2 separate regions of the Homo sapiens genome follow, and region 1 is linked to region 2. Evidence: fine-mapped expression QTL. Tissue or cell type: prefrontal cortex. Region 2 holds a variant in brackets; the other region holds the start of a gene. All regions are shown on one strand. Distances are from middle to middle.

Evidence for each region. PIP is the estimated chance that this variant, and not a neighbour inherited with it, causes the effect.
Region 1: it holds the start of WFDC1, and the variant in region 2 is fine-mapped to the expression of WFDC1 in prefrontal cortex (CommonMind, PIP 0.95).

Annotation. Positions count from the first base shown.
Region 1 is chr16:84,288,015-84,303,574 of GRCh38, reverse strand. It overlaps WFDC1 (WAP four-disulfide core domain 1), which reads right to left and starts at 8,697. Exons shown (of 7, transcript NM_021197.4): 1 at 8,460-8,697. The coding sequence starts at 8,603. It overlaps LOC124903734, which reads right to left. Exons shown (of 6, transcript XM_047435022.1): 2 at 14,529-14,658; 3 at 11,599-11,877; 4 at 11,025-11,076; 5 at 9,940-10,058; 6 at 8,737-9,242. The coding sequence starts at 11,602. The coding sequence ends at 8,737.
Region 2 is chr16:84,320,106-84,335,665 of GRCh38, reverse strand. It overlaps WFDC1 (WAP four-disulfide core domain 1), which reads right to left. Exons shown (of 7, transcript NM_021197.4): 5 at 11,206-11,247; 6 at 8,711-8,784; 7 at 5,822-6,344. The coding sequence ends at 8,726. Among named protein-coding and RNA genes, the nearest start is that of WFDC1, 33 kb to the right of the region's middle. The variant T/C (reference allele first, on the strand shown) is at 6,077.

The DNA of each region.
Region 1 (15,560 bases), 32 kb after region 2:
CCCAGAATGTCACCAGAGTTTACATCTTGGAGGAAGAATTCAGATCATTTCTACTAATTTATAACTTTCTGTGTTGCCTGACTTTTTTTTTTTTTTACAGTAAACATCATTCTTTTAATAATCAGTAGAAGAATTTATAAACCACTTCCATTTAGGGAAAAAGAATCCAATCTCCAGAGCTGCCACCAAAGCTACCCACATGCCTCCCTCAGTGCTCACCACCCCCTTCCTTCCACATGCAGGAGCTTTTACCCTTCTTTGGAAAGTTCCAGCAGCTTAGCGGCCAGACCAATAAAAATGCACCCCAGCACTGGTTTGCGTGGTGGAGGAAGAAAGCCAGTTTTCCTCTAAGCATTACTTGCTCTTCCTCTGGAATTTGGACGTCAAACATCTAAAAATATGTCGCTCCCCGGAACAGTGGGCTTAGAGTTCAGCGTGCGTAGATGAATGCCATTTCCTGGTGCCCGGGGCCCTTAACACTGGGCTCTGGGGACAGAATTTGGCACAAGGTTAATGGGACTTCCTCAGAGGGAGGCCAAAAAAAAAAAAAAAAGAAAGAAAGAAATTCACGAGACGGCAAAGTCGACCAAGTCTTCCCAACAATGTCATTGTCAGTCAGTGCACCCGAGAGTCCTCTAGAACTTTCCATCCCTTCTATTCTGTTCCGGAAGGTTTTAACATAATTGATTCATTCATTCAACAGTAAATTCATAATTCCCAGGCCCACTGGGTTTCGGGCGCTGGGCTGGAAATGGGGAGTTCCGAGTTGAACCAGAAGACGTTGGCCCTGACTTCACGTGGCTGTTTCAGGACAAGTCAGAGACACCACACACAACAGCACACAGATAAGGCGAACGAATTGCTTTTTGTGGTCATCTGCAAAAGCAGTTAGAGAGAAACCTAAACAAATCATGCCAATAACAACAACAGAGCTAAATGCTAAGAAGGAAGAGCTGGGCTCTTATGTAAACATTTAAGGGAAATCATAATGGGGCATTCAGGGAGAGGCCTCGGAGGAGATGGGCGTGAAGCTACGATGACCCACGAGCCGGAGTGGGCACCGTGAGCGGACACTTGCTGAGAGGCTGCCTCTCGGTGCTGGGGACACAGAGGACTCACAAGGACTCTATGTGCCATCGCAGAATTCCCGAGAGGTGCCTCAGGTTCTCGCTGCTTTTTAGAAAAATTATTGTGGTAAAATATATATAACATGCAATTTTCCATTTCAGCCATCTTAAGTGTGCGAGTTGGCGGCATTAATTAGACTTACGATGTGTGCAACCACCTCCATGATCTATTTCTGCGGCTTTTCCATCACCCCAGGCAGAACCTCTGTTCTCATCAGACAGCTGCCCCCTATTCCTCCCTCCCCCAGCCCCTGGCAACCAAGAATCTCCTTCCCGTCCCGCTGGATTTGCCTCTTCTGGACGTTGCATCCAAACAGTGTCACACACCCGTGGCCTTTGTGCACTCAGCATCATGTCTTCGAGGTTCATCTGTGCAATGGCGTGTGTCCAGGCTCCGTACCTTTCTATGGCTGAGTTCTAGTCCCCTGAGTGGACAGGTGCGATGTGCTCACCCCATGGGCATCCATCTGCCTCTGCCCTGTGGCTGCGGTGAGTGCTGGCACAGAGGTGTCCTGCTTTCCTGTCTCCCTCTCCCGAGTGATAACCACACAGGGACCTGGGATGCTTCTTTACTCGTTGATTTCCACCTGGAATTTCAGGGCTGGGACCTCAGATGAGGAATCTCAGTCCCAGCGAGGAGAAAGTGATTTGCCTAAGGTCCCCCTCAAAAGTCAGCTATTCATGGACTTTTCATTCCTTCCAGTCCCCCCTCCATGCCAGGTTCTGGGCTAGACACCAGGGTGTGGCCAAGCCTACAGTAAGTTTGCTTCACATCAGTACGACATATCCCCTCTCTCCAGCACCCAGGCAGCTCCGGGGCTTTTCTGGGGTTCTCAACCATGAGCCTTGAAGACCCCCTCCTGGGTGCTGCTGGGGGTTTCCGGAGCCTACTGAGCACCCGCTGACCCCCAAGACGTAGGCATCTTCATAGTCTTGATGATGAAGTCCCGCAGGGTGTGAGCTCACCTGGTTCAAGGAGCAGACAAAGCTCCCAGACTCTGGGGATATAGTGATAGCCCCACTTGTCCCCAGCCAAAACAGCACAGATAAGTCATTCTCTGCAATGGCCTCAGTTTCCTTATCTGTGAAATGTCTCGTTGCCGGTTGCAACCAACAGAAGCTGACTCCCTTGATGCCCAGAGCAGACTGTATTCGTGTCCGAGGGTGCTGCAACAAAATGCCACACGCTGGGGGCTTAAAACAACACAAGTGGATTCTTTCACAGTTCTGGAAGCCAGAAGGCTGAGATCCAGGTGTCTGGCAGGGTTGGTTCCTTTGTGGAGGCTCTAAGGAGAAAACCTTTCAATGTCTCTCCCAGCTTCCAGTGGTGGCTGGCAGTCCCTCATGTTCTCTGGTCCCTCATGTGTCTCTTGTAGATACATCACTCTGACCTCTGCAACCCTCTGTCTTTGCATGGCCTTCTCTCCATGTGTCTCTGATTCTATGTCTCTTCTCCTTTTCCTTTTTTTTTTTGAGATGAAGTCTCACTCTGTCGCCCAGGCTGGAGTGCAATGGCATGATCTTGGCTCACTGCAACGTCCACCTCGCCTCCCAGGTTCAAGTGATTCTACTGCCTCAGCCTCCTGAGTAGCTGTGATTACAGGCATGCACCACCATGCCCAACTAATGTTTGTATTTTTAGTAGAGACAGGGTTTCAGCATGTTGGCCAGGCTGGTCTCGAACTCCTGACCTCGGGTGATCCGCCCACCTCGGCCTCCCAAAGTGCTGGAATTACAGGCGTGGGCCACCATGCCTGGCCCCTTCTCCTTTTCTTATAAGGAACGGGGTTCATATTAAGGAACCACCCACCTCCAGCATGACTTCATCTTATTTTGACTAATTACACCTGTAATGAACCTGTTTCCAAAAAAGGTCACATTCACAAGGATCAGAAGTTAGGGGTTGGATATATCTTTGGGGGGACACAGTTCAACCCACAGCATGGATCCGACAGGATTCGAGTGCAGGGAGTACATTTGGGAGGGGATCCCAGGAAGCCCCAGCTGGGGAGTGGGAAGCTGGGCAGGAAAGGGAAGGCGCCCTTCAGGGAGTGTTAATGAGCAGGTGGCTGCCTGGGCACTAGAGCTCAAACCCAGTGGACCTTGGAGAAACCGTGTGGAACACTCCTCACTCGTGTCCCACCAAAGTTGAGAAGCCAGCTGGGCCATCGGGCTCCAGCTCCATTTGCTCCTACAGGTGTTACCTCCCCGGCACCTTGGCCTGACTGTGTGTGGGCTGAGCAGGCTCCTGCAGCCAGAGAAAGCCTTCAGGCCAGCAGACACAGATGCTTACGGTACAAAGATGAAGGTGAAGGTCAGAACTCATGGAATGGTGAAAGCACAGCTCCAGGCCATCTGCTTCTCCCACTCTTGCTATCTCAGCAAAAAATAAAAGGATGTTTGGAAGGCTCTCAAGAGCTCACAGAAATAATGGGGGAAAGGAGATGGGGAACTGAGGAATGCAAGTTGTGGGCCACTGCTGGCTCCTACAGTCCCCTACTGCTATTAGCACAGGGGGTGCCTCCAGATAGACAATGCAATGCTCCCCTCCCTCCCCCCGTCTGGCAGGATGCATTTGAAAGAGAAAGTGGCACCAGCTCCTGGCTGCTCTAGCCCCTCCCAGCCCCCCTCAGCAGGACAGGCATCTCTGGGCAGGGTGCAAACTGAACCACCATTTCCAGCTGCCCTGGAGGGGTGCTTAGAGGGGAAAACAGACCCACAGTCACACTGACAGTAGGGGCCAGCCTGCCCAGGCCAGGGGCTGCATAGCACCGAGGCCCGCATGGTGGCTGCCATGGGCCCCACCCGGTGGATTTGTCGAGAGGCTCCCAAGAGCGAATACGTGGCAAACTCTTGCCCTGACACAGTGTAAGCGCTCAGTAAATCATTGTTCTCAGGAGTTTCATCTAATGCCAGGAAAGAAAAACCAAAAACACCAAGTCCACAGAACCGACTGAGCTCCATGGAAAGGTTATTGGACTATTTACAAACGTTCTGCTTCTGTTTTATTCATTCTCATAAATATTTGGTTCTGGAATGGGGTTTTTGGTTTTTTTTTTTTGCTTTTTGTTTTTTGTTTTTTGAGATGGAGTTGCGCTCTTCTTGCCCAGGCTGGAATCCAATGGCACGATCTCGGCTCACCGCAACCTCCGCCTCCCAGGGTTCAAGCAATTCTCCTACCTCAGCCTCCCGAGTAGCTGGGATTACAGGCATGCGCCACCATGCCCGGCTAATTTTTTTTGTATTTTTAGTACAGACGGGGTTTCTCCATGTTGGTCAGGCTGGTTTTGAACTCCCGACCTCAGGAGATCTGCCTGCCTTGGCCTCCCAAAGTGCTGGGATTACAGGCATGAGCCACTGTGAGCCACTGTGCCCGGCCTGGAATGGGTTTTTAAATCTGTCCGTAGTGCACATGTAGGGAATGCAGTTCTGTGCCAGTCAGGGAACTGTGGGCTCTATGGTCTTTTTACTGAGCCCTGCAAAGCAGGCACTACTGTGTCCCGTGCTGCAGATGAGGAAACCGAGGCTCAGATAGGAGAAGGAAACTCCTGAAGGTCTTAGAGATAGAAGGCGGGAGACCCGGCACTTCTCATTAGAAGCTTCTCCTAAGGGCCTCCCACGGGAATGGAAGGCAAGCGTGCTCATCTCTGGCACTGTCTCTGCATGCTTAGACCAAGAAGCATAAACAGCACTCAGGACATTAACCGGCCCCACTCTAAGAGACCAGTCCGCTACACAAAACTCACTCTGCCGGGGGACGAGGCTTTGAGAGACTAGAGCAGGCTACAGGCAGCCCTGCGCTTGGTCAGGACTGAACCACCAGCTCTCCTCATGTAGCCCTGGCCAATTTCCAAGGTGTAAATACTCCCAGCATGGTTGATTTCAGGCAACCCACGTGAGGCCACTGAATGGGAGTGGGAAGAGATGTGGAGTAGCTTCTCTCCTGGTCATACCACACGGATGCAAAAGACATAAAACCCCAGGAGCCAAGAGAATAGCAAAACGGAGCAATACAATTGGAAAGTGATGCATTTCTAACAAGAAGTATTTCCTGGCTGGGTGCGGTGGCTCACACCTATAATCCCAGCACTTTGGGAGGCCGAGGCGGGCGGATCACCTGAGCTCAGGAGTTTGAGACCAGCAAAACCCCATCTCTACTAAAAATACAAAAAATTAGCCAGGCGTGGTGGTACATGCCTGTAATCCCAACTACTCAGGAGGCCTAGGCACAAGAATCACTTGAGCCGGGGAGGTGGAGGTTGTAGTGAACCAAGATCACACCACGGGACTCTGTCTTAAAAAAAAAAAATTCTTTCCTTTCTTTTTAATACAAATGATTTAACTGTAAGTTTATATAACTTAGTTTGTGATCATGGCTGTGTGGAACAAAACTGGCTCTCCAGAGGGGGTGCAAGCCAGTTCAGCACACAGCCAGCATCTCCTCACTCTGACGAGCCCATAGCCCTTGAGGGTCAGGGCCAAGGCTGAAGGTCTCACTCAGCGTAGGGTGAGGGAGTGGTGCCTCACGGGGAAGTCTCGACTTTGTGCATGTGGGGGCTGCTTCCTATCATCCGTAAGTCCCTGTCGAACGAAAGGGCCATGAAAGTCATAGGTTCTCCATCTTCATTTCCCAGGTGAGGACTGAGGACCAGAGAAGGGCAGCGAGTGGTCCAAGATTGCACAGCACATTAGAGATTTCACTGTGATAAGTTCCAGGCCAGGTGCTCTTCCCAGCCCTCCCTGTCCTCTGAGCCACAGGCGAACAGCCTGTCTTCGCCCAGGGCTTTCTCTGAGGCACAGTTTTTTTTTTTTTTTTTTTTTTTTTTTTTTGAGACAGAGTTTCACTCTTGTTGCCCAGGCTGGAGTGCAATGGCACAATCTCGGCTCACTATAACCTCCACCTCCCGGGTTCAAGCAATTCTTCCACCTCAGCCTTCTGAGTAGCTGGGATTACAGGCATTTGCCGCCACACCCAGCTAATTTTGTATTTTTAGTAGAGATGGGGTTTCACCATGTTGGTCAGGCTGGTCTTGAACTCCTGACCTCAGGTGATCCACCCGCCTCGGCCTCCCAAAGTGCTGGGATTACAGGCATGAGCCACCGTGCCTGGCTGGCACAGTTGTTCTGCATAAACCTCACCTATGTCTAGGCGCTGAGGAAGGAGGCCAATATCTGTTGATAACCAGGGAAAGTTTCAATTCAGCGAGGAGCCAATTCAAAGCACTTGCATCCTGACCAGTGGTGGCTACAAGTGAATCAGCTCCTGCAGCCCACCCAGGCCTGTGTTTTAGAGACTCCCCCAAATCCCCCGCGCATATCAACCCTGACCCTCCTATGTGGATGTCACAGTGCTGGCTCCTATGACATCTTGGGACATGGTGGAGATAAAATCAGATGACATATTGGCAATCTCTCTATGGTTGTAGAACCAAAGTGCTACTAACTACAGTTGAGGGTTAAATCATCCTGTTGCACCAGAGAAGAGCATGGAGGAGTCAATAAAATCTGAGAAGAGTCTCTCACCCCTCCTCAATGCCTCCCCTCTGGCCAGGTCTGGTCTCCCAAGCAGCTCTTAGATGCACCACTTCTGCCTGTGAGCCTCGGCTCATGCTGAGCCTTCTTCCAGGAATTTCCTTCCTCCTCCTAATTCCTAATCCTTCCCCAAGATCCAGTCAAGGTCTCCACCTCCTCCAGGAAGCCTTAGGTGACTACACCATCTCACATGAGCTTTCCCTTCTCCAAGCGCCTCATCATGTCACTCTACTACTCTTTCCACTTCTCGAAGTCCTCCTGTCTCCCGCCACGAGCATGTGCCGAACATGGAGAATATGAGCCCTGGAGGCCCAGATTTGTCTCAATACAGTTTCAGGCACCCCACTATGCCTGGGGTCATTAATCATTCTCCCTTCCCTCTTCTCCAGCTGGCAAACTCCTATTTATCCTTTAAAGCCACAGGTCCACTGTCCCCAACCCTAAAAACCCTGTCTGACTCTCCTGGGGAAGAGCTGCACACGCATCCCGTGCTACCACTGCAGCCGCTCATAATTCACCCACAAGAATGTACCAGGCGTCAACTTAATGGCAGGCACCAGGGGCACACATTAGTGAAACAGAACCCTGCCCTACCCCAAGGAACCTACATGCTACCCTGTTAGGCAACACCAAACAAAGTCACAATTATTTGATTGAAAGCTGCCAAGATGCACTGCCAGCTTGCTATGTTGCAAAGACGTTCTACATACTGAGACATTCAATCCTCACACAGGTGCTGTGGGTGCCAGCATTACCTTCTTGAGCCCTCTGTGTGCTGATATCGTCCTGGCTCACTCCGTCCCTGCGGATCTGTGATCTCTGGGGGGTGGGAGGAACCAAAAATGATAGCCTCCTCCACCCCATTCTCTCTCCTAGTTCCCTTCCTGCTTTATTGCTTCCTCAGCACTTGCAATCTGCACATACTAATAAATGAGATCTCTCTCATTTATTCTTTGCTGCCCCCAGCCCCCCATTGAGTTCCCCAGGCAGAGATGTGAGGCCTGTATCCCCACAGCCTAGGACAGTACCTGGTAAACAGTGGCGACCCAGACATAGTTGTGTGAAGAAATGCATCCCTCTGTCTTTTGCAGATGAGATTGCTGGGGTTCAGAGACGTCAAGCAGCTTGCCTGAGAGAAGCCACGCAGCTAATGAGCAGCAGAGCCCGATTCACACCCAGACATCTGGCCCCAGGGCATGTGTTTCTTGCCACTCACTGCCTCATGCCTTCTCTTTGTACTGCCATCGTTTGTCACCCAACTGCCTCTGCACCTCGGCCACGCCACCCTTGAGGATGGGGGCTGGTACCTCCTTTATCTTGTATCCACAGGACCCCACAGAGTGCCTTCCCCAGAGCGGTTTCTGCTAAATTCTGTTTAACAGAGTGTATTCATTCTGTTTGCTGAATGAATAAACAACCACATGAATGCATAAGTGTATTTCACAAACATTTGGTACTGATCAGGGAGACGGAATGCTCCGTTTAAATCCTGGGGTTCCGAAATGAGATGCTGTCTTTCAGGAGCAAGCATACTTTTGTAACAAGGCAAAAGTAAGGCACGATTCTTTGGCACATTTGTGATGTGTCTTTTGCCTCTTGATTCACAGATAAGGGTCCTTTTTTGGGGGTGAGCCCCATCTGCCCACCACACAACTCAGACACACACGGATAGGAAGACGCCTGCCTTGCCACGTTTTGGGGGAGCACTTACAGGAGAAGGCAGTGTCTAGGGATCGCCTCTCCTCAAGGCTGACTCCCACCCACACAGGCTGCCCCAGCCTCCCCATCCCAGGCACTTACACGGGATTTCTCGGCCAGCCTCGCAGGCAATGCCCGTTTCCAGATATTCTTGGCAGAGCCGGCGTGGAGGAGAAGTAGCAAGAGGCACAGAGCCCGGATGATCTGCCTCCTGCAGCTGCCCGGCCCCACGCCGGTTAAAGGCATTTCCTCCCTGGGCAGCGACCTTCCAGACGCACACAGAAGAGGGGCCCCCCTCGCTGCGTGGGCCTGTGAGTGGGGACAGGAGCGTGCACAGTCTGCTGGACTTTCTTAGTTCCACCCAGCAGGGTCCCTCGGATCATGTGTCCGCGTCCAGCACATGCCCCTTCCTCGATGGTGGCTGGCCTGCCCGGTTATTTTTAGCTTGCCCTATAACATCTGGCCCCAGACGCTCCAACCAGGGCGTCTGCAGCCCAGGCAGCTCAGTGGGCGGTGGCAGCAGGAGGAGGGGGCACCGGCTTGCTTGGAGACGTGGCCGGGAGTGGCCTGTCACTCTCCACTCTCCATAATGAGCACTTCCTTGCAGGCTGGGGCGGTCTCCTCCCAAGGAGGTGTGCTTGACACAGGGCTCGGGGCTGGACATGCAGGGGAGTGCAGCCGGATGGGTGGGGGCTCGGCTGCTACCTTGTTCACATTTCGAGCTGGGCTGACAAACTATCTGCCTATAAAAGCTTCTTTGAAAGAGGCTGCTGGACTGGCACTGGCCAAGGGTGCAGCCATGAAGAGACGACTTCCACCCTTGCACCCGCCGGGGTCCTCCTGCCTGATGTGGGCATGTGGGTAGTTCCTCATAGCGTGTGTTTCCTGTGAGATTTAAAAGAAATTGAGCACATAAAGCATTTCACACACATAAGTGTGCTGTCACTGTCAGCCGGTGTATCTGCACATGTGCATTTATGTGTATGCGTGTGTGCACGTGGGTGTGCATGTGCACGTGTGTGTTTTACAGGAATGTAGCACAGCGGGCTCAACATTTCACAAACTTCATATTCCCTTGTCTGTTCTCAGCACTTCCAAGACAGATACTGGTTTTTTGTTTTGTTTTGTTTTTCGAGACGGGTCTTGCTCTGTCACCCACGCTGGAGTGCAGTGGTGTGATCACAGATCACTACAACCTCTGCCTCCCGGGTTCAAGCGATTCTCCTGTCTCGGCCTTCCAAGTAGCTGGGATAACAGGCATGTGCCACCATGCCTGGCTAATTTTTGTATTTTTAGTGGAGACTGGGTTTCACCATGCTGGCCAGGCTGGTCTCAAACTCCTGACCTTAAGTGATCTGCCCGCCTCAGCCTCCCAAAGTGCTGGTATTACAGGTGTGTGAGCCACCACACCCGGCCCCAAAACAGACACTGTTTTGATGCCCGCTTTACAGATGAGGAAACAGAGGGGGCTGCCTGAGGTCATGCAACAGCAGCAGAGAGGAGGCTGGAACCCAGGTAGGTCAGACCCTGTGGCACCCCCCTAGGCGAAGCAGAAGGGACCCAAGCACTAGGCTTGACGCACCTGCCTGATCCCAGTTCAGCCTCTGCGAGATGCTGGAAAGCCTCTTGCTCATGGTCCTCAGTTCTCTCATCTGTGAAATGGGCATGTGAAAGTCTCTGCCTCTTGAGATCGATGTGGGGCTACAGGAGAGGGTGCCAGCTGTGCCCAGCACTTGCACAGAGTGAGTGCTCCAGAAAGATTGGTTCCTCCCTCCCTGGGGACCCTCACCCCCCACCTCCTGGCCAGCACAGCCTTCAGAATGCCCTGGGCAGGTATCATCAACCCCTCTTGGCCTTTTAGTGAATGACAATAGTGGCAAACACATATAGTCTGTGTAGGTCGGGTACGGTGGCTCACACTTGTAATCCTAGCACTTAGGGAGGCAGAGGATGCCTTGAGCCCAGGAGTTCAAGACCAGTCTGGGCAACATAGTGAGACCTCATCTCTACAAAAAATACAAAATAAAAAAAGTAGCCCGGCGTGCTGATGCACACCTGTAGTCCCAGCTAATTGGGAGACTGAGATGGGAGGATCACCTAAGCGTGGGAGGTTGAGGCTGCAGTGAGCTGTGATGGCGCCACTGTACTCCAGCCTGGGTCACAGAGCAAGACCCTGTATCAAAAAAAAAAAACCTTAAAAGCCATACAGTCTGTGTGTTCGGCAATGTTTGAAGCACTTCCTGCATTTTAATGCTTTTAGGTCTCATATTAGCCTTATAAGCAGGTGCTGTCTAGGATCCCATGCACAGAGAGGTTAAGACACTTGCCCAGTGAGCAATGCAAAATTTAAGTTCACCATCAGAGTCCTGTAAACCCAGGAGCCCAAGCGTGAGAGTCTTTTTACATTTTAGACCCTAGATGCCTCCTTTGCCTCCCGCTAGGCCCAGCCCTGATCATTACCTTGCCCTAGATTCTAGAATATTCCTTCATTTCTTCATCCAGAAACTACTGGCTGAGCCCTTATGGGGGCATGGTCCAGCGTGCTCCACTCCCTCTTCTTTCAGCTTTATGGGACGCAGTCTCAATGCCCCTCCCTGCAGGGCAAGGCTGCTTATTTAGAAGCCAGGAGCCACCCACGGACATGATGGAGCTGCTACCCCTACTTACCAGGACGACCTGGAACAGGTCCTGCCCCATCTCTCTGCCTCTGTTTTCTCATCTGTAAAACAGGGGTATGGAGTCAGAACTTACTCGCAGGTTTGCCATGAGGCCCAGCTGCACTTAGGCGAGGATCTAGGCTCAGCACATGCTTGCTGTTAGGAGATGAGCGTTCTGAGGCACCGCCTCCTGGGCCTCCTCCACCCGCACCCTGTTCTCCAGGCAGAGCGGAACCTTGGCCCAGGTTCCATTTGAGAAACTTCCTGCTGCTTGGAACCTGGGGCCCTGCGCTCTCCTAAGGCAGCTAACGCCTCCCATGTGGTTCTTGCTCATCCTCCATCTCCACCTTCCCCTTAAAATGTAGGCGTTTCCCATTGATGTTACAGTCTTGGCCCATTTCCTGCCTCTCTCTCTCTCTCCCTGGGTGGCCTCACTTCTGCCAACAGTATGACTCCCCTCCCTCTGGGTAGACGAGGTTCCAAATGCCCTCTCTCAGCCTCCTTGCTGGGCAAGGCGCCAGCCCTGTGCCCCTGCAGCGCCCTCCACCTGGAATGCTTTTCCACCCAGCTGCGGCACTCCTCACCCATCACCTCCTCCAGACTTTTGTTCACGTGTCAGTTTCTTGCTGTGGTCCTCTCTGACCCCAGGATTGAAAACCACCATTTGCATACCACTGGGACTCACGGTGCCCCTCTTGGTTTTATGCTTCTTCGTACTCATCTCCACCTGACATATTCTGTATTTTACTAACTTTGCTTTCTTCGTTTATCGTCTATGTCTCCACACTAGGATGTCAGCTCCACGGGGGCAGCTTCTGGGGATCTGTTTGTTCACTTTGGAATCGCCGATCCCTAAGCAGTGCCTGGTGCAAAGTAGACACTCAGTAAAGACGGTGTAATGAATGAGTTGTGCTTAACACATTTCATCTACCAGCTCGATGGCTCGACGTGGCTGTCGCTCTCTACCCATGCTTCCCTGTGAAACATGGCTGGTCTGAAATGAGATCTGTCATAAGGATAAAATGCAGACCCGATTTGGAAAACCTGTGAGTGCATGTGTCTTTATGACAGTAATGAATTACTGTCCTTTGCATATATTCCCAGTCGTGGGATTGCTGGGTTGAATGGTAATTCTACTTTAAGTTCTTTGAGAAACCTCCAAACTGCATTCCACAGTGGCTGAACTAGTTTGCCCTCCCACCGACAGTGTATAAGCGTTCCCTTTTCTCCACAGCCTCACCAGCATCTGTTGTTGGCTGGAGACAGGAAAAAAAAAATGTCAACGTTTCATTAGGAGTTTTTACGTTGGTCGTGCATTCAACTGCTAATTCAACTACTAATGTTTATGCTATATTGGGTTAAATATAATATGGTATTACATTAACTGTACCTGTTTCTTTTTGGAGACGAGGTCCCACTATGTTGCCCAGGCTGATCTTGAACTCTTGGGCTCAAGCCATACACCTGCCTCGGCCTCCCAAAGTGCTGACATTACAGGTATGAGCCACTGCACCCGGCTCCGTATCTGTTTCACATGGCTACTAGAAAATTTACAATTACACATGTGGCTTGCCTTATGTTTCTATTAAGTTTTGCTTGTCTGAGATATCAAACTCCTTCTCTAAGGTTCAGCCAAGGCCATCACTGTCTAACCAGACACCCAAGCTCAAACCTTCACTTCACTGCTAATACCTACCTTACTCCTCTCTTTATCTGGTCTCTAATTCATAATTTTTTTTTTTTTTGAGATGGAGTTTCGCTCTTGTTGCCCAGGCTGGAGTGCAATGGTGTGGTCTTGGCTCACTGCAACCTCCTCCTCCTGGGTCCCAGAGATTCTCCTGCCTCAGACTCCCGAGTAGCTGGGACTGCAGGCACCAGCCACCACCCAGCTAATTTTTTTTTTTTTTTTTTTTTTTTTTAGTAGAGATGGCGTTTCACCATGTTGGCCAGGCTGGTCTCAAACTCCTGACCTCAGGTGATCCAGCTGCCTCAGCCTCCCAAAGTGCTGGGATTACAGGTGTGAACCACCGCACCCAGCCTAATTCAGAATTTTTAAAAGTTATTATATTATGGTTTTTTTCCCCTAATAGCATAATTCATGTTTATTAGCAGAGAACTGGGAAAACAGAGGAAAGAATAAACAAAATCTTTAAAATACATACATCTAGTATCAGTATCCAGAGATAACCAACGTAGCCTTTCTTTTTTTCTATGTATATATATTAGTCATGATAGAAGTCAAGGCCAAGGCCAAAGTCATGGCTGTGGGTGAGGTCAACATGGCAACGTCAAGTAACATTAAGAACACAGACTCTGCATCAGAGAAATGCAGATCAAAACCACACTGAGATACCATCTCACACCAGTCAGAACAGCTATTAAGAAGTCATAAAACAGGCCAGGCGCAGTGGCTCACACCTGTAATCCCAGCACTTTGAGAGGACAAGATGGGCAGATCACATGGGATCAGGAGTTCGAGACTAGCCTGGCCAAAATGATGAAACCCCGTCTCTACTAAAAATACAAAAATTAGCTGAGTGTGATGGCAGGTGTCTGCAATCCCAGCTACTTGGGAGGCAGTAGAATCGCTTGAATCTGGGAGGCGGAGGTTGCAGTGAGCCGAAACCACACCATTGCACTCCAGCCTGGGCAACAAGAGCAAAACTCCGTCTCAAAAAACAAAAAGTCATAAAACAGTGGATGTTGGCGAGGCTGTGGGGAAAAGGGAACACTTACACGCTCAGTGAGAAGGCAAACTAGTTCAGTCACTGTGGAATGCAGTTTGGAGATTTCTCAAAAAACTTAAAGTAGAATTACCATTCAACCCAGCAATCCCACGACTGGGAATATACCCAAAGAACAGTAATTCATTCTATCATAAAGACACATGCACTCAAATGTTTGCTACACACTGCTGTTCACAACGGCAAGGACGTGGAATCAACCTAAGTGCTCGTCAACAGTGGACTGGATAAAGAAAACGTGGTACTTGTTCACCATGGAATACTGTGCAGCCATAAAAAACAGCAAAATCATGCCCTTTGCAGCCAGGGCTCCAATGGATGGAGCCGGAGGCCATTATCCTACGTGGCCCAATGCAGGAACAGAAAACCAAACACCACATGTTTTCACTTATAAGCGGGAGCTAAACATTGAATACATGTGAACATAAAGATGGGAACAACAGAAACTGGGGACCAGTAGATGGGAGAGGGGGGAAAGTGGACGTGGGCTGAAGAACCACCCGTTGGGTGCTATGCTTATCACATGGGTGATGGGATCACTGGGACCCCAAGGCTCAGCAGCATGTAATTTACCCGTGTCACAAATCTGCACATATACCCTTTAATCTACAATAAAAGTTGAAATTTAATAAAAGAAGAACACGGACTCTGCAGCCAGCTTGCTCGGGCACAGACACCTGCTCTGAGACCTCCCAGCTGTGCGACCATGGGCAAGTCACCTGCCCTCTCTGTTCTTTGGTTGACTCATCTGTAAAATGGGAGTAACATACCTGTCTCACAGGGTTGTCGTGAGTGTTGAATGAGTAGTATGTAGAAGACGGTTGTACATGTTCCTCTGTCCTCACTTGACCATAAATTTTTGAGGACAGGGCTGAGCGTTGTCCATCTCCGAAGCTTTCTCTGGGACATGGACAGGAACCTCTTTTAGTGAGCATTTACTATATGCCTGGCACAGTGCTGGGCTCTTGAGATCACCATCTCCACTTCTTCGTTGTGCTCACTCTGCTCTAGCTTCTTCCTTGACAGCTCCCACCCCAGGGCCTTTGCACAGCCCCCCAGTTGCTCTCTCCCCAGATACCTGCTTAGCTGATCCCTCAATTCCTTCCAGTCTGTGCTCCAATTTTGCTTTCTCAATGAGGCTTACCCCAACTGAGCTTTTAAAATCACCATCTGCCTCTTTTACACCACCCTAAATTCCCAACCCCCTTTGTCCTGCTTTCTTTTTCCATAGTTTCATCACCTTCTAATAAATTATGAAATGTACTTATTATGTTTACCACTGATGGTCTCTTTCCCTGTGGTACACAGAATCATGGGCCCTTAAAAGATGTCCACATCCTAATCCCCAGGACCTGCGAGCATGTGGTCTTACCTGACAAAAGGGACTTTGCAGAAGGGATTAAAGCAAAGATCTTGAGATGGGGAGAGTATCCTGGATTATCTGGGTGGGACCAACATAATCACAAGGGTCCTTGTAAGAGGGAGGTAGAGAGTGAGAGTCAGAGGAGATGAATGGTGGAAGTCGGGTGGGGGTGGAAGTCAAGGGAAAGTTGATTTGACACGCTACGCTGTGGCTTTGGAGATGGAGGAAGGGACCATGAGCCAAGGAATGCAGGCAGCCCCTGGAGGCTGGAAAAGTCAAAGGAAGTTCTCCCCTAGAGCCTCAGAGGGAGCACAGTCCTGCAAACCCCTAGAGTTTTCCCCAGTGGGACTCAGGTGGGACTTCTAATCAACAGAACTGTAAAATCATAGACTTGTGAACTTGTTGAGTTCGCAACTGCTAAACTACATGATGCTGAGGC
Region 2 (15,560 bases):
TTATCTAGATCCTGTAGGCCATGCTTCATTCTTTTTTATTATTTCTTCTTCTGTCCTCTGACTGTGTATTTTCAAATAGTCTGTCTTTAAGCTCACTAATTCTTTCTTCTGCTCGATCAATTCTGTTATTAAGAGACTCTGATGCATTCTTCACTATGTCAATTGCATTTTTCAACTCTAGAATTTTTGCTTGATTCTTTTTAATAATTTCAATCCCTTTGTTAAATTTATCTGATAGAATTCTGAATTCCTTATCTGCGTTATCTTGAATTTCTTTGAGCTTCCTCAACACAGCTATCTTGAATTCTCCGTCTGAAAGAGATCACGTACCTCTGTTTATCCAGAATTGATCCCTCGTGCCTTATTTATGGTGAGGTGTCAGAATTAGTCCCTCATGCCTTATTATGGTTCATTTGGTGAGGTCATATTTTCCTTGTTGGTGTTGATTCTTGTAGATGTTTGTTGGTGTCTGGGCATTGGAGAATTAGGTATTTATTACAGTCTTCACAGTCTGGGCTTGTTTGTACCTGTCCTTCTTCCTCTTCATATTTTTTTTTTTTTCCAGACAGGGTCTCACTCTGTTGCCCAGTCTGGAGTACAGCGGTGTGATCACAGCTCACTGCAGGCTTGACCTCGGGGATCAAGCCATCCTCCTGCCTCAGCCTCCCAAGTAGGTGGGACTACAGGTGCATGCCACCACACCCTACTACTTTTTGTATGTTTTGTAGAGGCAGGGTTTTGCCATGTTGCCAAGGCTCGAACTCCTGGGCTCAAGCAATCTGCCTGCCTTGGCCTCCCAAAGTGCTAGGATTACAAGTGTGAGCCACTGGGCCTGGGCTGCCTGTCCTTCTCGGGAAGACTTTCCAGGTGTTTGAAGGGACTTAGGGCCACAAACTCAGTAACACTGTGGTTCTTGCAGACTCATAGAAGTACAGCCTTGGTGGTCTTAGATAAGAACTGGAAGAATTATCTGGATTACCAGCAGCAATTCTTATTCTTTTATCTTTCTTTCTCCCAAACAAATGGAGTCTCTGTATCTGTGCTGAGCCACCTGGAACTGGGACTGGGGGACATAAGCATCCCTGCAGCCACCACCACTGGGACTGCACTGGTTCAGACCTGAAGGCAGTACAGCACTGGGTCTTGCCCAAGGCCCACTGTAACCACTACCTGGCTACCACCTATGTTCACTCAAGGCCCTAGGGCTCTATGATCAGCAGGTGGTGAAGCCAGCAAGGTTTGTGTCTCTCCCTTCAGGGCAATGAGTTCCCTCAGGCCCTGGATAGGCCCAGAGATGCTGCCTCAGAGCCAGGAATTACAGTCTTAAACGTTTACCTGGTGTTCTATTCTGCTCTGGCTAAGCTGGCACTCAAACCACAGGACAAAGTCCTTCCTGCTCTTTCCTCCCCTTTCCACAGGCAAAGGAGCCTCTCCCTGTGGCCACTGTCACCACTGGCCCATGGTCGGGGGTTCTGCCAGGCCATTGCTGGTGTTCACTTAAAGCCCAAGGGCTCTTCCGTCAGCTTGTAATGAATGCTGCCAGGCCTGGGACTCACCCTTCAGGGCACTGGGCTCCCCTCTGGCCCAGGGCAGGTCCAGAAATGCTGTCCAAGAGCCTAGGCCTGGACTCAGAGACCCTAAGGGCCTGCTTGGTGCTCTATCCCACCGTGGCCAAACTGGTACCTAATGTGCAAGACAAAGTCCCCGTTACTTTTCCTTCCACTTTTCTCAAACAGAAGGGGTCTCTCCCTATAGCCACCACAGCTGGGAATGTACTGGTCACACCTGACACCAGCACCTCTCAGGGCCCAAGGCCCACAGCATATTACCTGGGGATCACTGTTGGTTATTCAGGATCTGAGAGCTCTTTAGTGAGCAGGTGATGAATCCTGCCAGGACTAGGTCCTTCTCTTCAAGGCAGTGGGTTCCCTTCTAGCCCAGGGTATACCTAGAAATGTCACCCACGAGCTAGGGCCTGAAATGGGGGCCTCATGACTCTGCCCAGTGCCCTCTCCAACTGTGGCTGAGCTGGACTCCAAGATGCAACGTAAAAAGGCCTCTTTTCTTAACTCTCCTCTCCCTGAGCAGAAGGAAGGAGTCACTTTCATTGCTGCCAACTGTGCTGCCTGGAGTTGGAGGAGGGGTGGTTCAAGCACTTCCTTAGCCTTGAAGCCTGGTGTCCCTCTAGGTCATGTGCCCCACAGGTCCTCTGGCTCTAAGCCCAGCCCAGTACCAGGAGTTGCATAGGAATTACAGTCCTTGTGTCCTAGACAGCTTTTCAAGTTTACCTAGTACCTCAGAGCACTTTAGTCCACGGTGGCAGGGCTTGCTGAGACTCAAGTTCCGACCACTGGGATGGGCAATTCCCCTCTGGCTAGGGTTGGTCCAAATGCTCCCTCTGTGCATGGGCGCTGGCTGAAGCCACCACGGCTTTGCTCTCTGCTGTGACAGGGCAACACTGAGTTCAATGTGAAGCCCCCCAGTGGCTGCAGTCTTCCTCTCCCAAGTGCATAGATTTCCCCATGCCTCGTGGCTGCTGCTGCGGGATGAAGGAGGGGTGGCACCGGCGATTCAAGACTGTCTTTCCTAGCCTCTTCCATGCCCCTTTCTGCAACACGAAGTGAAAACCAGGAACTGTGATTGCTTACCTGATTTTTTGTTCTTGTCATGAGGCTTTCTGTGTGTAGTTAGTTGCTAAAATTTGGTGTTCCTGCAGGGGAGATGAATGGAGTGGGCTTTTATTTGGCCATCTTGCTCTTTCCCTTTTGATTTCAAGGTCATTAAAGGCCTTTCTTAGACTTACATAGACATAAGTTTTCATCATGCGTTTTTTTTTTTTTTTTTTTTTTTTTTTTTTTTTGAGGCAGAGTCTTGCTCTGTCCTCCAGGCTGGAGTGCAGTGGCACAATCTCAGCTCACTGCAACCTCTGTCTCCCTGGTTGTGCCTCAGCCTCCCCAGTAGCTGGGATTATAGGCGTGCGCCAGCACAGCTGGCTAATTGTTGTATTTTTAACAGAGATAAGGTTTCGCCATGTTGGCCAAGCTGGTCTCGAACTCTTGGCCTCAAATGATCTGCCCATCTCGGCCTCCCACAGTGCTGGGATTACAGGTTTGCGCCACCGCGCCCGGCCTCATGATGCGTCATTCTTATGTGTGTATCACATAAAAATATAAGTGCAATAAATGAGATAAGGTATTTCATAGGACTTCTTTCTGAGAGCATTGGTGATGCAGAATTTTTGGTTCCTCTGTTGTTTCTGGAAGTTTCCACCAAGCTGCTGACACCCAACCTACATGTTTTGATATTCACATGTACAGGCAATGATGCCTCCCTCGTGTCTGGGCCTGGAGGACACTGGCCATAAGACAAGCCCTAACTTCAGGAATGTCAAAAGGTGAAAAAAAAAATGGTGCCTCAGATTTGATTAAAGAAAAGGTGGTTAGTGCCTGGGAATATTACTTGAGAGAATGAGTGCATGAGTCAGTGCATGAACAAGTGATGAGTGAGTGGAAAAGTTAATTACCGTGAGCCTAAGGGAAAGTGCCCCGGGAGAACTTGCTGACGGGTGAAATGATACAAAGTCGAGCTTCCTTATTTTGGGCTTAAACCAGAAGTTCTCACCGGGTAACTGTACCCCACGGGACTTTGGCAAAGTCACATTTTTGGTGGTCCCAGCTTGGGGGAGGGTGCTTCTGGCATCTAGTGGGTAGACGCTGGGGTGCTGCTCAACATCCTACACTGCACAGGACAGCCCCCACCACAAAGAATGATCCTGCGCAAAACACCAATAGTGCCAAGGTTGAGAACCTCTGCCTTAAGCCAAACAGGGACAGCAGTTCCCCTTGAAATGCACACGTTCCCAGAAGTGTTCAGATATTATGACCAACTAGCACATCACCACCTCCAGGATGTCTTCCCTGATTACTGCCTTCCCTGCCTTCTGCCTTGGCTTAGCATCCCTCACTGGGCTCTCTTGGCACCTCCGGCCCCTGCTCCCATCTGTGCCTTCCCCACCCTGGATCATAACTCTCTCATTTCTCTCACTCCCTCAAGGACTTGGGCTCCTTGAAAGCAGAAAGCAGGTCTTATTTTTGACCACTTGGCAGTATACGACCACCTTCCTGCCTTGGTATTTGCATCTTGACAGTCCAGTCCCATTCATATGATCGTGACTGAGTTCACAGTAATAATCATAATGAGGTTGGAGTTCTCGTTGACACTTTAGAAATGTGGACCCTGAGGCTGGGGCATGTTCAGTAACCTGTGAGGGCCGCCCAGCTGGTGGTTGGGACTCAACACAAGGTAGGACCAGCCTGTCTAGTCTTGGGCATCAGAAGCTCTGGGCTCAAAGCCCATCTCTGTCATTTGCTTTCTTTTTGAGCCTAGGCAACTTGCTTAACTTCTCTGAGGCTGAATTTCTACAGCTGGAAAATGCGGATGTTCATACTCTTTTCACGAGGTTTTGTATTAAGAGAATTAGTGTGCATTGTGCCCGGCTAATGATAATAATTATAACCATCCCTGTGTGCTCAGCACTTACTATGTAGCATCTCACGCAATACCTACAGGAACTCTGAAAGCCAGCTACTTTTATTACACCCAGTTCAGAGAAGAGGAGACTGAGGCTCTGAGAGGGCAAGTGCCTTGCCCAGGATTGGAACTCAGGCTGAACAGGCTCTAGTGTCTCCACCCCATCTAGTGAGCAGCCCTCCAGGGAGTAGGGATGAGCTCAGCCCAGTCCCTTCCACTCCAGAGTCCTCCGCAGGATGGCACACTGTCAGGCGTCCCTTCTACACCTCAGTGGCGGGAGGGAGTCAGCTCCGACAGGCCAGGCTAGCAGAAGAGCAGGCTGTCTGGAGCCTGAGTGTGGGGTGGGACTGCCTGCTCGGAATCCTGGTTTTGGCTCTTACTGACTTCACAGCTTTGGGTGGGTCCTTTCAGATCTCCAAGATCCACAGTTTCCTCATCTGAGAGATGCACAGACGTTGCCAGGCCCCCTGGAGTCTCTGCTGCTTGTAATTATTTGCTTCCACTGTATGTGGCTAGCTGGGGGTGCACAGTCCCTTAGGGCCTCTGTCCTCAGCTCTGATGAGCCCTGGGGACTTCAGCCAACCCCAGGACAGTGCGAGCAAGCCGTCTAGCACAGGTGGGGCACCCATGATTTAATGGGAGAGCCCCGGGGTGCCCCAGGGGCTCTGCCGATGTCCCCTTGGGTGCCTTTGTGCCTCTCCCTCCCTGGCAGCAGGTGGGCTGCCTCCTCTCTTAGGGGGAGGGGCAGCCTCGCCACCCACTGATGGGTGCTGGAAGCGTTACGCATACTCGGGTTCCGCTGTCCAGCCCCAGTGGGACCGACTCCACAGTGTGGCTCAGGGCTACCGACATCATTTGCAAAATGAACAAGCAGGCCCCTTGTTCAACAATGACTAAGAGTTTTTAAATGGTGACAGCAGATCATTAAACCAAGCATAGGGTCCTTCTGGATGCACAGCCCTGGAGCCAGCCCTGGTGGGACTCAGGCTTCCTCCAAGACCCCCAGAGGGATTGCAGCAAAGGTGCCCTCCATGGGCCCTCGTCACCTCTCCCTCGTCTGACTGTCTCCTCCTGTTCCGCTTCCCCACTCTCATGCCAGTTTTTCCCAGGAACCGCCCTAATGAATCACTTTCAACAAATCCCCCTCCCAAGGTCTGCTTCAGGGGCTCTATGCTAACACAGGGTTCCAGGAGCAGAGCCTAGCTGACACCTCATCCCAGCAATACCCACGCTGCTTCCCACCCCTGAATTAAACAGTGACAAAGTATCACAAAACACCAGAGACTCGGCATCTTATTTGGTTGTTTTTATTGTTCTGTGGCCTCCTCCCACCTGCTAACATTTAGGCCTCAGCACATCCGGTGGCTACAACTAGGAATCACACATTAGTAAGCAAGTTCATTTCCATTTCCTGAAGGATGAATTTATCTTGGGAACATTTGAGATGGGTACATACCTCCCAGAGCCAGACTTGGGAGGAATCTGTCAAAAATATCAAGATGCTGAGCCTTGTCTTAGAAAGGGGCTTCAGAAATGCTTTCATGGG[T/C]GGCGGCTTCTTCCCGGGGTAAAGGTCTCGTGGAGCTGCAGGGCCTTGCTCCCAGGATGGTAAAACAGGGACCCAGAGCTGTTAAGTGGCTCCCACAAAGTCACCCAACCAGGCTGGGCCAAACTGGGTTTGATGGCCAGGTGTCCTGTCTCTAAGCATCTCTGGGGTCTTGCTCTGCTGAGCTGAATGTGAACTGTGAGGGTCAAACTACTTTTCCCAACTGTTTCCAAGGCTTAGCAGAAAGTAGAGGAATGTTCTTGCAACCTAGCTGGAAAGCAAGCAAAGAAGGATCAGGGTGAACCGCTGCAGGGCAGACCAGAGACAAAGAAGGGTCAGGGTGAACCACTGCAGGGCAGACCACAGAGTCACAAATCTTTCGTCTCCCCGCCGCCACCGCCACCATCAGAAACACCAGGAAGATGCCCCTTTCTGAGAAGACCCAATTCTGAACTCACTGTGACGTCTTCACGGCATCATCTTATTTAGTTCCTAACTCCTCCCCTACCATCAGTTCCATTTTATAGATGAGGAGGCTGAGGCTTGGAGAGCCGAAATTATTTACTAAATCCACAGTGCTGGAACAAGAATTTAAACCCAGACCTAGCTTGCTCCAAAGGCTGTACTTTTTTTTTTTCTTGAAACAGGGTCTCACTCTGTCACCCAGGCTGGAGTGCAATGGTGCAAACATGGCTCACTGCAGCCTTAACCTCCCTAGGCTCAGGTGATCCTCCCACCACAGCCTCCCAAGTAGCTGGGACCACAGGTGCACACCACCATGCCTGGGTAGTTTTGTATTTTTTTTTGTAGAGATAGGGTTTCACCATGTTGGCCAGGCCAGGCTGGGCTTGAACTCCTGGGATTATACCATATGCCTGCTTCGGTCTCCCAAAATGTTGAGATTACAGGCGGGAGCTGCTGCGCCCACCCAAAAGCCTCAACTTCCAAACTGCCATCCTCAACTGCCTCCCAAGGTCTCGTCCTCATCCACTGGCCTCCTTCTTCCCTGTTAGAAGCTCAGTCCTCAGCTGCATCTGACCTACTCCAGGGACGGCTCCTGTCATCAGCAGGTAACAGACGTGCTGGCATCAGTCCCTACGGGCTCCAGATTTTCCGGGAGGATTCTGGAACCTGCAATCTGACATTTGCGTTTCAGCGACGTCCTGGGAGGCTGTCACCTGCTTTTAGGGGCTCCTTTTTGCCCTCTGTGGCTATCCAGCATTCACAGGGGCTGGGTAGATTTTCAGGTTTAGGGCTGCAACTCCACAGCCCTTTGCATGCACCTACGCCTCACCTTTGAGGGCACGTGAGGGCAAGCCTGTGCCTCACCTGCGGCCTCCTCTGGAGTCAGCCTCCCTGCCACCTTCCTGCGTCTACCCCAGGGGCCTTCTTTGGCTCCCCAAAGCCAGCGTCCCTCCTGCCTCAGTACTTTCACTCTTCCAACTCCCTCCACCTGGGCGCCTATCCTCCAGACCCTCCCCAAGCAGCACCTTCTCACCTTGGATCTTGGCTCAGACTTCAACCCCCACAGGGCCTTCCCTGACCCCAAACGAAGCAGCCCCTGCCCCAGGCTCTGCTCCTGCCCAGGGACTCTGCCCCACATTGCCTGTTCACTTCTTCACCACACCTGTCTTTGTATTGATTGATCTGTTGGCTTGTGTAGCCGTCCCCTACCAGGATGTGGCCTCCCTGAGGGCAGCGGCTCTGTGGGATTTGTTCACTATACCACCCTGGCATGAACTACCGCTGAGCAACCAAGAGGCTGGAACCATGACTATCAGATAGTTGGCACCCAACAGAATTGTTTGACAGAAATGAGAAGAGATAGACAAGACTTCCTGGAGACATCAAGGCAAAGGAATGAAAAGGAAAGTTGCGACCTAGTCTGGTCTTGGATTTTTGATTCAGAGGGATACAGAATTGCTTCTGCTTCTGATCACACACAAAGTTCTCCTACGTTCCTGCCTTGAAATTGCAGTAGGTCCTCATTTAACATCATGGATAGCTTATTGGAAACTGCAACTTTAAGCAAAATGACCTACTATATAACAAAAACAATTTTACCATAGGCTAATGGATATAAACAAGAGTTAAGGCCAGGCACAGTGACTCATGCCTGCAATCCCAGCACTTTGGGAGGCCAAAGTGGGAGGACTGCTTGAGGCCAGGAGTTCAAGACCAGCCTGAGTAACATAGTGAGAACTCATCTCTACAAAAAATACAAAAAAAAAATTAGCCAGGTGAGGTGGTGTATGTCTGTAGTCCCAGCTACTGAGACTAAAGCTGAGGCAGGAGGATGGCTTGAGCCTAGGAGTCTGAGGCTGCAGTGAACAATGATTGTGCCAGTGCACTCCAGCCTGGGTGACAGAGTGAGACCCCATCTCTTAAAAAAACAAACAAATGAGTTAAGCTTCTATGGCATACAGTGCATATAGTATGTCGTTGCATTTAAAGTCAGTTTCCAAGAACCTATTGATGACGTTAGGTGAGGACTTACTGCAGAAGGGAATTTCAAATTCTACCAGTAGGGAAAGCGCTACTCTCACCCTCCTGCTCCTCAACCTGGTGGTGAAAGCTGCCAGGACACTGGCTGCCCACATTTACCCTGGCCATGACTCTTGCTCTCTGCCCACTCACCTGCTTGCCGTTGCTTTACTGAAAGTGCTTCTGTTGTCCCCTTCCAGGTTCTGCCACATTCTTTGAGTCACCTTCTGTGAAAAGAACACAGCTCTGTTGGGGTAGATGTATCTATTCCTGCTCTAATGCCCCCCGTGGCTCACCAGGAACTGCCAAATGAAGCCTGGTGACCTGGCCCTCTCCTCCCTCCCCCAGCTGAGGTCACTCAGTCCCCACCTGCAGTGCCTCCTCTCCCTCCCCAGGCCCCCCAGCTGGTGTCACCAGCTCTGTCTATGTTTCTGGTCTTACCTCCCACCACCTCCACAGCTCACCACACACTCCAGCTTTGGGGATGGCCAAATTGCTTCCGACCTCAAGAGCTTCACACATGCCATTCTGCTGCCCACTATTTCTTATTCTTTAGGCTGAGCTTTCATGTCTCCTCCTTAGGAAGCCTTTTCTCACAACCTGGACTAAGGTGTCCTCATAGTATCCAGCATGTGATGTCAGGAAGGCTTGTCACTATTCTCATAAAATAACCACTTGGGCTATATTCATGTCTGAATTTTCTGCTTGATATTAGCTGCATGACAGCAGCGACTGGGTCTGTCATGTTCACAAATGTAGCTCCAACCCCCAGCACAGACTGATGAGTAATACTTAGAAAATATGTGCTGTAAATTATTGATAAAGACATATCAGATGGATGGGAGAATGGATGGATGGATGGGTGAATGGATAAATGATGGATGGATGGATGGGTGAATGGGTGAATGGATAAATGATGGATGGATGGATGCATGGATATATGGGTGGGTGGATAGATGGATAGATGGGTAGATGAATGGATGGATGGATGGATGGATGGATAGATGGGTGGGTGGATGGACGGATGGATATATGGATGGATGGATAGATGGATGGATAGTGGCTGGCTGGATGGCTGAATAGATAGATGGATATATGGGTGGATGGATGAATGGATACATAGGTGAATGGATGGATGGGTAGATGGGTGGATGGGTGGATGGATGGATGTATGAATGGATGAAAGAAGAGATAGATGAATGAATGCAAGGATATGTGCATGAATGGATGAATGGGCAGATGGATGGATGGTTGGGTGAATGGATGTACGGGCAAATAGATGAGTGGATATAAGGATGGTTGGATGGAGGGATAAAGGAATAGAAGGGTGGATAAAATAATAGATGGGTAGATGAAAAGATAGATGAATATATAGATGGATAGATGGAAGAATGAACAGATGGATGAATAGATCGATGGAGGAATGGATGGATGGATGCATGCTTGAAAAAATGGATGGATGAAAGATTAGATGAATATATGAATGGATGAATGAGTGAATGGATAGATGAATGGGTGGGTGGATGGATGGTGGGTGGATGCATAGATGGGTGGGTGGATGGATGAGTGGATGGATGGATAAATGGATAGACAGATGGGTGGATGGGGCCAGGCACAGTGGCTCATGCCTGTAAATCTAGCACTTTGGGAGGCCGAGGCGGGCAGATCACCTGAGGTCAGGAGTTTAAGACCAGCCTGGCCAACAAGGTGAAACCTCGTCTCTACTAAAAATACAAAAATTATCCAGGTATGGTGGCGGACACCTGTAATCCCAGCTATTTGGGAGGCTGACGCAGGAGAACTGCTTGAACCCAGGAGGCAGAGTTTGCAGTGAGCCAAGATTACTCCAGTGCACCCCAGCCTAGGCAACAGAGTGAGACTCCATCTCAAAAAAAAAAAAAAGGTAGATGGGTGGATAGATGGATAAGTGAAAGGATGTATGTATGAATGGATGGATGGATAGATGAATGGATGATTGGTGAATAGGTAAGTAAATGAAAGGATGGATGGATGGAGGGATGAAGGAATAAAGGGGTGGATAAAAGGATAGATGGGTGGGTGAAAAGATAGATGAATATGTGGATGGATGGATGAATGGGTGGATGGATGGAAGAATGAATAGATGGATGAATAGATTGATAGAGGAATGAATGGATGAAAAAACAGGAAGATGAATGAAAGAATAGATGGATATATGAATGGATGAATGAGAGGATGGATGGATGAATCGGTGGATGGATGGATGGATGGTGGGTAGATGGATGGGTGGGTAGATGGATGGAGGGATGAATGGATGGATGAAATAATAGATGGAGAGATGGATGGATCAATGGATGATTAGATGGATGAATGGAAGAGTGGTATCAGGCGTGTTTTCCAATTCTCTGAATGAAAGTAGCAGAGGCTTAAATATGAGCAGTTCCAGGCTCTGCTCTTCAGCATGAGGTCATGTTTGCCATGAGCTCCTCTGTGACTCACAACTCCCTGCCCACCATCAGACCACAGGTCTTCTATTTTGTTTCTTAATCCCAGGTCCCATTTTGTTCCCTATATCTCAGCCCTGGGCTTTTATTTTTTTCTTCACATAAGAAACTTTCACTGCCTTTTTTTTGTGCCCTCTGGAAAGAAAGAACAGTTTCTTCTTTTACCTGGATATTCTTTGTAAAGTTTGTGTCGTAGGATTCGCCCATCTGGAAAACAAGTGAGAGGAAAAAACTTCTTTTAGGAGTTTAGAAGGCCAAAACTGTTGTCATAATAACACTGAGGAATTACTTGTGTTTTTCAGTCTCCCCATCTCACTAGTGTACAATGGAATTGTTCAGAGGCTACATGAGCATTTGTAATGTCTCAGCTCTAGTTTCTAATATGATAATATCCAGAGCCATCAACCCATAAAGGAAAGCCCTGTGAGATCTCCTTAACATCTTTCAGGGTACAGCGGTCTTGAGAGCAAAAAGTTTCAGAACCACTGTCTTTTTTTTTTTTCTTTTAGACGAAGTCTCACTCTGTTGCCCAGGCTGGAGTGCAGTGGCATGATCTCAGCTCACTGTAACCTCTGCCTCCTGGGTTCAAGTGATTCTCCTGCCTCAGCCTCCCGAGTAGCTGGGATTACAGGCATGCGCCACCACACCCAGTCAATTTTGTATTTTGAGTAGAGATGGGGTATCGCCATGTTGGTCAGGCTGGCCTCGAACTCCTGACCTCAGGTGATTCACCCACCTCAGCCTGCCAAAGTGCTGGGATTACAGGCGTGAGCCGCCATGCCCGGCCAAAACCATTGTCTTAACAGATGAACTGGAAGCCAAATTTCAACACACTGTTGAGTAAATGTCATTACAAAATATGTTCACAGGGGGAAGAGATGACACTCTTTTGAGTCTGCCCAAGAGACACTCTGATGTCATTACTGCAAATGACAAAGTAACTTGAGTATGAATCCTCACTCGTCCTCTTTGAGCCTCAGTTTCCTCTCCTAAAAATAGGCATAAAATTAGTACCTCTTAAAGTTATTGTGAGGATTAAAAGAAACAATTTCATTTAAAACATATCTATGCAGTATTAGGATGAGCCGTATGAAAATTCTATCTTTGTGTGTAAAAAGTGGTCAACTGCTGGCAATTTCATGCATGTCCCATGACTAGCCGTGCTACCCACCCCATGGTAGCAGGAAAGCATTTGCTGACAGGAATGTGACCAGGACATGTGGATGCTTGAATGTGGCAATCTCTCTCAAATTTAGCTCACTTCTCCATCCTGGTGATCAGCGCTGCCTTTTCTGCTATAAGGTTAATCAAGCACATATGCGCGGTAGCCAGACATTTTCTTTTTCTTTTGTTTTGTGGCCATACTAAAAATCATCAGGCTGTTTGGGACCAGCACGGACATTTATCGGTCAAGGTGCTAACGCTCCATGGAACCGCTCCAGGCCCTCCGGTGGGTCAGCGCCTGCTGATCAGCAACTGCAGCAATAACTATTTTCCAAAGCAAATGGCTAAGGTTTTTGTAGGCTGGGGGAGCTCCCCAAAACTTTCCTGCTCCCCCTTTACCTGGGGGTGAATTCTGGCCCATAACACCACAAGGAGACAGAGGTAAATGTGGACCCCGGACCCCCTCCTCAGGCCAAATATAATCACTTATAATTTATTACCAAAAATGATTACTCGTCACTTTTCTCAAATTGCCTCCCACTCAAGGCTAGACAAGCCCCACTTCATTCTTCTCAAGCAGTGTCTTGGGCAGGACAAGGAGGGGCCAGCCCCCGCAGCTCAGCTTCTGTGTGACCTCAAACCTACTCAGAAAAATGCACCGATTTTCCCTGAACCCACTCTCTGAAAAACCAGATTTACTATACATGTCAGTGTTCATTTTCCTCTTGCATAAAATGTGAACCCCTCAAATGCCTGGTTCCAGGTGCTGGATGGTCAAACTTGAAGGACTATTGGTACCCGCTAGAAGCCTCTCTTACGGGAGGATGGCATCTTAGGTGTCGGCACAGGGCCTGTCGCTTACTCTCAAATGGTCCAGAAAAATACACACGTAGATTTATAAGTGGGGAGAGAGCATAAAGGAAAATGTAACGGTAGTTTTTTAACAACTGGTGAATCTGGGTGGGGGATTCAAGGTACTACTTTTGCAACATTTTTATAAGTCTGAAATTATTTCAAATATGCAGTTTTTAAAAACTTAAATAAAAAGCTTCTTCCTTGGTAAGGCTGGGACAAGGGGGCCACCCTTCCCCTGAGATTTTTGCTCCAAGGGAAGTTGCTGGAATTCAAAATGTTTTCAAACCTATATATAATTACCAGTAAATTACCAGTAATTATTGCTAAGTGTCAGCCCCCTGAGAACAAGGCTAGGGGGAATTCCACTTACAGTTCCATTTGGAAGCCTCAAATCGTTCATTTGGGAGGGGAAGCTCACACACACACACACACACACACACACACACGCACACACACACACAGGCTCTGAGGCTGGTGGACAGTCTTGGAATTCCAGCTCTTCCAGCTCTGCATCTTTTGGGTAAATTCCTGAACTCATATCCTCCCTTTACGAAGACAGGGATGATGGTGGCACACATTCACTGAGGACCTACAGTGGGCCAGGTGCTATTCTAAGCACTTCATACGTGTTTCTCTCACTCAAGCCCCATAACTACCCCATGAAGTAGTCACTATGGTTACCATCGCCATCTCTATTTTACAGATCAAGGAACTGAGGCTAAGAGAGGTTGGGTGACCTGCTCAAGGCCACGGAGGAAGAAAGTTACAGGCTTTGGACTTCTTTCTGTGGTTCTGAGCCTGCACTCTGAAACCTATGCAGCACTGCCTCCTGGTTCTACTTCTCCTTTTGCAGGCTTGCAGCAAAGCTTAATTTAAAGAGAGCACTCCAAAGGTGCATGTTAACAGTAGGCATCACTGGTGTGGTCACCACTGAATGACTGACCCTCTTTGCTTAGCTCTGTCTTGAAATGGGAATTTTTTTAACTGGTTTGAACCCTTAAGAACTAGTTTGACTTGGTTTGACCTTGGTCTTAGACATCATAGGGCTGAATGAAAAGATCAGGGGATGAAAAAGACAAGTGCCCAAGGCATTCCTATTATGCCGTCATTATTATAAATGGTGGCATAGCCCAACGAACTCACAACTCGCCCCACAGCTCTCTTTTGGAAAAGGCTATCCCTTCCACACTCCAGCAGCCTCACAGTGGCTGGCAGGCCCTTGCGGTTTTACCTCCAAAGGACCATACACCCCACCCACCCACGGCAGGATTGAGTGTCTAGAGACAAGCAGTGATAAAACAGTGAAGGTTGTTTACTGTGCTTGTGAATTGATGGACACTCTACACAGATTAACTCACTCCTCAAAGAGCCCTGTGAAGTACCTCAAGTATTATGAACCCATTTTACAGAAAAGGCAAATGAGGCCTGAAAAGGTTATGTTATTTGCTGCCCACAGCAGTAAGGGGCTGAGTAGCTGTGGCAGCCCAGGCTATCTGGCTGGAGAAGCCACCCTATAACCCCAAACAAAGCCCTGCAAATAGCAAGTGGAATGTAGAGGAAACCAAAAAGGCATCTCTTTGTTTCAAAGCCTTTTGTAGATAATTTCTTCAAAGTTCAGGATTCCGGGATTTGCATCACTTTATCTGCAATGATAATGACATTAAATGCATGACTGATTTTACGTCTATGCCTTTCTTGAAACACTTCAGAGAAAAACATTCTCAAATCAGAAAAAAAAAGAGGTTTTGGCAGATCATGCACTCCCCAGTATACTTTCGGCAAATAGGGTCACTGTAATTATCACCAATCTTGTCTGAGGGTCCTGTCCTTAGCTATTAGGGCTATGAGATGCCGAAGCGGGGACAGGGGCCCCTGGGTGTGGTCTCAGTCTGACTGACACTGACTTTGACAAGGTGAACCTGGCCACCCTGAAGTCCCAGATTCCTGGCTCACCACACAGTTCATCCAAACTCCATGCCAAAAAGCACATTGAAGTCTTTCAACTTGATTGCCTTGAGTGGGGTTCGAGATGGTTTTAGATACCACCAGGAATCGCTGTGCCATTGTTCTTTCTTTTCTTGGGAAAATTATGCCAATGAGAGCAACACAATTCACTCATCTATTTATTGCCTTTGTGTCCAAAGACGAACACAAATTAAGTCAAACTGAACAGTCCTGGCAGAAGTTCTGGAAGTTAAGGATTCTCAGACAATTCTAATTCAATGCAGTTTGAAAACAGATACAGATGCTTCTTGACTTACAATGGAGTTATGTACTGATATACCCCCTACAAGCTGAGAATATCTTAAGTCAAAATGCACTGAACACAGTTAACCTACTGAACACCATACCTTAGCCGAGCCTACCTTAACTGTGCTCAGAACACTTACATTAGCCTAGAGTTGGGCAAAGTCATCTAACACAAAGCCTATTTTATAATAAAATATTGAATGTGTCGTGTAATTTGATTACCATACTGAAAGTGAAAAACAGAATGGTTG